Homo sapiens: one gene and its partner. The protein of the gene in region 2 purifies or fractionates together with the protein of the main gene of each other region. This does not show direct contact. Each region holds a gene or a part of one and is shown on either strand. Other genes may lie near its edges.

The links. Proteins that work in one complex are often made in the same cells at the same time.
Region 1: the proteins of ARHGAP10 (region 2) and PPP2R2B purify together in Homo sapiens (co-immunoprecipitation; one large-scale study listed by IntAct). This does not show direct contact.

Annotation. Positions count from the first base shown.
Region 1 is NC_000005.10:146,585,185-146,588,838, forward strand, and holds part of PPP2R2B (serine/threonine-protein phosphatase 2A 55 kDa regulatory subunit B beta isoform), read right to left. Parts: 3' UTR 1-3,654. UniProt on the Homo sapiens protein: The B regulatory subunit might modulate substrate selectivity and catalytic activity, and might also direct the localization of the catalytic enzyme to a particular subcellular compartment.
Region 2 is NC_000004.12:147,738,513-147,742,166, forward strand, and holds part of ARHGAP10 (rho GTPase-activating protein 10), read left to right. Parts: intron 1-3,654. UniProt on the Homo sapiens protein: GTPase-activating protein that catalyzes the conversion of active GTP-bound Rho GTPases to their inactive GDP-bound form, thus suppressing various Rho GTPase-mediated cellular processes. Also converts Cdc42 to an inactive GDP-bound state.

The DNA.
Region 1 (3,654 bases), on a different chromosome or scaffold from region 2:
GAATCTTTAATTCATTGAGCTTATGGGTCATTACTGGGGCTTGTTTTCTGATCAGTAACTTCCATCTACATGCATACACACACACACACACACACACACACACACACACACACACACATAATGTATGATGGGGATAGTGGATAAGAACTTTAACTAAAACTGCCTGGCTTTGTCACTTGTGAACTGTGTAAATTTGGTTGTCATTCATCTGTTTCTGTATCTATAAAATGAGAACAACAATAGTATCTGCATCTGGAGTTTTAGGGGTAAATAAGTCAATACATGTGAAATTTGTAGAACAAAGCCTGGCTTATAATAAGTGCTCAATAAATGTTAGCAACTATTGTATGTTAGAGCTGTATTTTAACAGCTCTGGCTTTAGAGTCAGATACCTTGAGTTGGAGTCCTGGTTCCATCTCTCTCGGGCTTTGTGCCCTTGGCTAGGTTGACAACTTGAGTCTATTTTCTCATTTGCAAAATGGAAATACTAATGCCACCATGGGGTCTGGGAGAGGAGATAATGAGATGAGGCATGGAAAGCAATAGTATATTACCCATCACTGTTGTTGCTATTATTAGTTTATGGTGCTTTAAACCTATCAAAATAGTTGTAAGTAAATGGATTTCTTGTTCTCCCAATAACAATTCTCTGAGCTAGGATAGATGTCTTTCTGGCCATTTTACAGGTGATGACACTGACATAGGGACTGAGTGGGTAGCTTAAGTTCCATGGTTACCAGGAGCAGGACCCACGTTTCCTGTCTCCCAGTCTCATCCTTTTTCCACTGACCAGGTTGGTTGCTCCCTTGGAAAGCAGTCCCTGAGAGTTGACTTAGAAGTTCAGGGGGAAGAGGTGGATGAAGGCATGTTGGATGCACAGTGAATCAGGTTGCAGTGTGAATGTTTCTCAGTGGTGTGTCTAGACTTCCCCCATCCAAAGACTAACCAGGCCTGACTCCATTTCACTTCCAAGATCAGATGAGATCGGGTGCATTCAGGGTGGTATGTCCAAAGACTGTGTCAGGGGATTTGTTTTGGAAGTGGGGTGGCATTATTAAAAACACACCGGCTTCATCCACACATTCATCACGGAAGAGGGAAAATTAGTAAGGGTTCCACCATTCAGGCTGTGGACTATAGTGTCATCCCTAAATCCTCATTATGAGGCCTACCAGGGCTTTCTTGAGCCCTGCAGGCAGCTAGCAAAGGGACTGAAAAAGAAATGAGGCCTGGGGTTGTCTGGGGAGGGAAGCTTTAGGCAGTTGCTCTGTAGGCTTGAAGGGAGGGAAATTATGGCTTTTCAAGTCCTTAGAAATTGGGCATTTGAGTGTGTACCTTTTATTATAATGGACCCTAGAATATTCAAAGGAAGTTTAGTGGAGATAGCTGACTTATTTCATTGGGCCACTGAGCTAGCAGAATTTTAGCTTCATCTTTATTCCACCTTGCAATTGTTCCATCTTATATATGCTGGTTGCCTAATAGAAGTTGATTTGGTTGAATTAATTACAAGATCAATGAGAGGTTTAAAGGTGCTTTTTTTTCAATGGAAGAGTAAAGGCAGGAGCCAAACTTGAAGGAGTTAAGAAGCAACTTGATTCCCACTGCCCATCTGCCTTTATATATCCCACTTCTTGATGCTGGCTAGTATCTTCCTTTTTTGTTTTTTCTAACTAATCTTCCTCCTCCTGACAGAAGAGTACGAATGTCTACCAAAGTTCAGCTTTTTGCATTACTTGTTTTTAACGTCAGGAACTGAATGTTGCGCAAGGATGGTTTTTGTAAAAGCCAGGGATGGCGTGGCTTCCATTTTCCTTCATTCAACTGACACCCTCCAGTTGTAATCTGATGGCTCTTACCAAGCAGCAGGCCTTGTGGGGTAAAGTAGTATAGGGCCCTTAGAATCGAACCAACTGTTGCAAGGTAGCAAATCAGCCTTCAAGTAGTTTTTAGTGTCAGCAGGAAAACAGACTGACTTCTATGTGCCACTAACTAAGAAATATTGCCAGTACTGGGGCTGAAAGATCACACATGTAAAATACCTAGTTCAGTACCTGGTAAAGAACAGTTAATTTGTGAAACATCGTGGTGGTTATTGCTCCCTGAGGCCTAATCTCTAGGGCTTTCCCCTCCTGTTCCCGTCCAGGAGTCTTGGGTGTTTGCTCTAATGCATCCTTTGCAGGGGATGGAGGAGAGGATGGCTGCCCTCTGCTCTTTCTTCTCTGGCAAACTCATCCTACTCTGGATCCCAGTTTGTACATCTATATGCTAAGGGTGTTGGACTAGTGTAGGGGCTTTTATTTGGAGTTCGCAGATAAACTGCAAAGGGGCCTATGAACTCCTTAAACCATGACAAAAATTATTCCTGTGTGTGTTATGGGCAGCCCTGCTGACTCTAATATGTGAAGAACCACCATCTTTGATGCCCCTAAGGGCATAAATCTTCTGTCATATCAGTTACTCAGGGTCCCAAAGTTTGATACACATGCTCCTGGTGGTTCACAAAATGATTTCAGGTGGTATGTGGGTGCATGTTTGTTACATTGATAATTATGTGATTAATGTTAGGGAAAAACCTAGCATATCAGAGTTGAAATTTCATGCATATTATTTCTTTGGAGGAGGCTAAGTCTTGCTTTTAAGAAAAGGTGACTTAAAAAAATGTTACATGAGTAATAGTACAAATGTGAGTTGATTCTTAAGTTTGAGATACAATGATTGGTCCCAACCCCCGACGTGGTACAGACAGAGGAGCTGAGTCCGGAGAAGTGGAGAAAAGGCCATAAAGGAAGTCGGTGGTAAATGTAGGCCAATAACCCAGTGGCCTTCTGCAAAATCATCACTCTCTATGACTGGCAGAAGTTTCTGACTCTCTCATGTCTCCTCCAAGAACACTGTCCCAGTCAGGACAGAAATCTTGCCCAGAGAGTTTACACCTTAGCCACTTTACTTGAGATGCCTAAGGCGAGGCTTTCCTTGCAGGAAAAATGAGAAATACTGAGAAAGTCTCGTCTTTGTTCCCATGCTCCCTCAATTCTGAGACGTACTTTTTTACATTTTAATGTTCCTGAAATTGGGCTGCATCTAACAAGACTGTTTTTACCTAAGGTGACAGTTATTTCCTTGCCAAAAAGCTATTAGTAAATGGATAGTAGCTTAGAATTGAGATAAAATGATTCTTTCACTATTTTTTCCTCCTCCAAAGCAAATTACACTTGAAAGTCAGGACTTCTAATACATCTGTAAACTGAAAGAAAATTTCCCTTTCATTGAAAAACTCTCATCTCAAACCATTTACCCTGCACTAAATGGGAGTTAGGAGAAATGAGTCATCAAGACAGATGTAGAGATATTAACCCAGAACCAGTTTTCTGGACTCCACCCATCTACTTTCCTAAGTTTATAAATCCTTTGCATGCATTTAGTGCCTTTCCTAGGGGTGTGCCACATAGAACCTTCTGGAAATGGCTTTCTAGAAGTTATAAATCTGGATCCTCAACTGGGGAAAAGGATGAACCATCTTCCACAGCTTCAAGTGGACTTCATTCACTTCATGTCACAGCTGCTTGATTTCCCCACAGTTCATTTCTGTAGAAGAGAGCCTTCTGGTCTGTTTTTCCAGATGGCGAGCTTGGGGTGAGTTAGAAGTGCCTG
Region 2 (3,654 bases):
ACTGCACTCCAGCCTGGGCAACTGAGTGAGACTCTGTCTCCCCCCCCCAAAAAAAATTATAATACGACCTACTATATTGGATTAAAAGTAGGATTTGTTAATACATGTAAAGCATTTAGTATAAGTGCTCAAAGGTTAACAATTATGATGACATAACTAAATTACAGGCATATATTTTATTATCAAGGCCCTGTTCTTGCCTCAAAATAGCTGTTCTGCACCCTAGACCAGGTATCTAACCTTTTAGTGTTTATTACCCCTAACAGTATATTTCTCCAAAGCACCATTACCAGTGACCAAGAAGAGAGACAAAATTGTCAAACCCTGGAAAGGCTTCCAAATTTTGATTGTAGTTCGGGATGCTGGAAAATCTTGAAAACACATTGGTGGCTGGGCTCAGTGGCTCACGTCTGTAATCCTAGCACTTTGGGAGGCCGAGGCGGGTGGATCACTTGAGGTTAGGAGCTCAAGACTAGTCTGGAGAACATGGTGAAACCCCATCTCTACTAAAAATACAAAAAAAAATTAGCCGGGTCTGGTGGCAGGCGCCTGTAATCCTAGCTTCTCGGGAGGCCGAGGCAGGAGAGTTGCTTGAATCCAGGAGACGGAGGTTGCAGTGAGCTGAGATCACGCCATTGCACTCCAGCCTGGGCAACAGAGCGAGACTCTGTCTCAAAAAAAAAAAAAAAAAGAAAAGAAAATACATTGGCAAATCAGAGCTCAGTGGTATCTTGGGAAAATATTTTCTAGAATTTATTTTTGATTCACAAAGATTTGAAGATAAAGTAGAATGTGTTGCTAAGGTCATTGCAAAACTAGTAAGCAATCTATAGTCGAGGTTCAGGCAGTCAGCAGCAGGCCTTTCCTCCAAGTGACTGATAAGGAAGAGTTGATGACAGAGTTCATCTCAAGGTATTGACATGACAATATAAGTGACTGCAGCCTTCAAATACTTCAAATTACAGAGATACTTTTTGAGGACGTGAACTCAAAATTAGGGTTTCTAGCGTCTGACATGCTGGAAATCCTAACAGCTTGTATTTGCTATGGTAAATTCACAATAAAAGAAGACGACCAGAGACATCCCTAAGAGGGATTTTCCTAAGAGCTGTTAGGTAATCCTGTTCTCTACAGTGGAATACTCAAAAGTGCTCTGGACAAATTCCCAAAGAAGCTGTTTTGAATTCTGTGACTTCAATAGCTGTTTGTCACCTTATATCTTGGGCTTTTTTTTTTTTTTTTGACGGAGTTTCGCTTTTGTTGCCCAGGCTGGAGTGCAATGGCATGATCTTGGTTCACTGCAACCTCCGCCTCCCAGGTTCAAGCGATTCTCCCGCCTCAGCCTCCCAAGTAGCTGGGATTACAGGCGCCTGCCACCACACCCGGCTAATTTTTGTATTTTTTGTAGAGATGGGGTTTCACCACATTGGCCAGGCTGGTCTCGAACTCCTGACATCAGGTGATCCAGCTGCCTCGGCCTCCAAAAGTCCTGGGATTACAGGTGTGAGCCACTGCGTCTGGCCTTACTGGGTTACTTTTTTTTTTTTTTTTTTTGAGACAGAGTCTTGCTCTGTTGCCCAGGCTGGAGTGCAGTGGTGTGATCTTGGCTCACTGCAACCTCCGCCTCCCAGGTTCAAGCAAGTTTCCTGCCTCAGCCTCAGCTGCACACCCTGTAGCTAGTATTATAGGTGTGTGCCACCAGGCCTGGCTACGTTTTGTATTTTTTGTAGAGATGGAGTTTCACCATGTTGGCCAGGCTGGTCCTGAACTCCTGACCTCAGTGAATTCAGAGAGATTAGTAGCTTGTCTAAATCACAATTTGTCATTGATGGAGCTGGAATGTGAACCTAGGTTTGTCTTCACTCCAAAACCCTGAACCACAGTAATGAGCTGTCTCTGTAAAGGGGTGTAACCGTGGTCTTCTGCTAGGGAAGTGATAATCGATCTTGATTATCTAGAGTGTGTGTACATTTGATCTAGTTAGGATATTCTTTTTACATTAGTATGATGACTGATTTAAATTTTGTTAAATTTTAAGACCCCTCTGGGGCCATTATTATAATTTAAACTGATTGCTAATTTGTATTATGAGTACAGTATAGACATTCCAAGGTCGGGTTGATTTAGTATCCATTACAAGACACAGACCTCCACTCTGTCTCTCTCAATCTCCACCTTCCTCTTTTCCTCCCCATTCCTTGTCCTACCCTTCAGTAGAGTAACTTTTAACTTATTCTTTTAGTATTAGGCTTGTTTTTCCTTTGAAAAGTTTGAGATACTTTAGAAATATAAAAAGATAGTCTCACAATAAACATTCATTTATTTTTCCCCCTCCCCCCAGCTTAATGAAAGCATCTTGTATACCCATTCTTTTCCCCAAGGGGTAGGACCTATCTCAGATCTGGTGTTTATTGTTCCTAGGCATTTTGATACAGTTGGGCACATCCATAAACAATATATAATGTGTTTGCATGTGTTTAAACTTTATATAATGGTTTCATCCTATACTTTTTTCCCTCTGAATATATTTGTGAGATTCATCCAATTGGATGTATGTAACTTTATTTCATTTAGTTCAACCTTTTTTTCCTACAAGTGACATTTAAAAGGACTTTGTTAATTGATGTTCTATGATGATGTACCTTCTACCTATGCATTTTTTGGATGATAAAACTAAATATATTTAGGGAATATTCATGATGAAAGCCTTATTGAAATTTGTTTTATAAATTTAGGATACTAGCTTTCAAAACAGTCAGTAATTAATAAATCCATGAATCTTAAAGACATTTAACCCATTTTCTTTTTGGTATTTTGTTACCAGCCCAGCATGGATAATCAGAGTAAGCCAGTTCATGTCTCAGGACTATATGAGAACTGGTTTGAGTCAGAAACAAAAAATCTTTAAAAGCCATTTTGCTTCATTGAAATTAGACTTCTGATTAGAAAGAGAAAAATGATGTTTGTATAAACACAATGTACATGGAGAATTCTGGTAACTGTCAAGCTAGTTGGGGCAGATGAACATGATTTTCAGGCAGGGACTGGATGGTATCTTGTGGTAAGCCCCAAAGCAAACACTGGCAGGTCTGCTTCCCTTACTTATCCTAACACAGGAATGTAATTGCCAGGGGGATGCTTTTGTATTGAGAAGGCCTTGATATTGTTCTCTTTATAAACACATACACACACACACAGAGAAAAACACCAGACACTTTACATTCTAAAGGCAGGCATCTTGATATCGTTCTCTTTACACACACACACACACACACACACGCACACACACACACACACACACACACACACACACACACCAGGCGCTTTGCATTCTAAAGGCAGGCATCTCTGTAAACTCTGAGATGGACTGGAGTCACACCCCAAGTTGCTGCCATAGCTAGGCCTGACTCCCTGGTCCAACTAGAATTTCCTCCCTGTGTTTCCTCAGAAAGACATTAATCCAGTGCCACTTAATATTTCAACGGTGAGTGTGATTTCTCCTGACTTGTTGACTTGTTTACCCACAGGCATCTTCTACCCTCACTCTTGGTGGCAAGTCATGGTGAGATGTGTGGCTGGAAGAACTCAATTTGGCCACAGCAGTGTCACCTCAGGTCAGAATACAGGATGTGGAATGGTCTCTTAAAAAAAAAA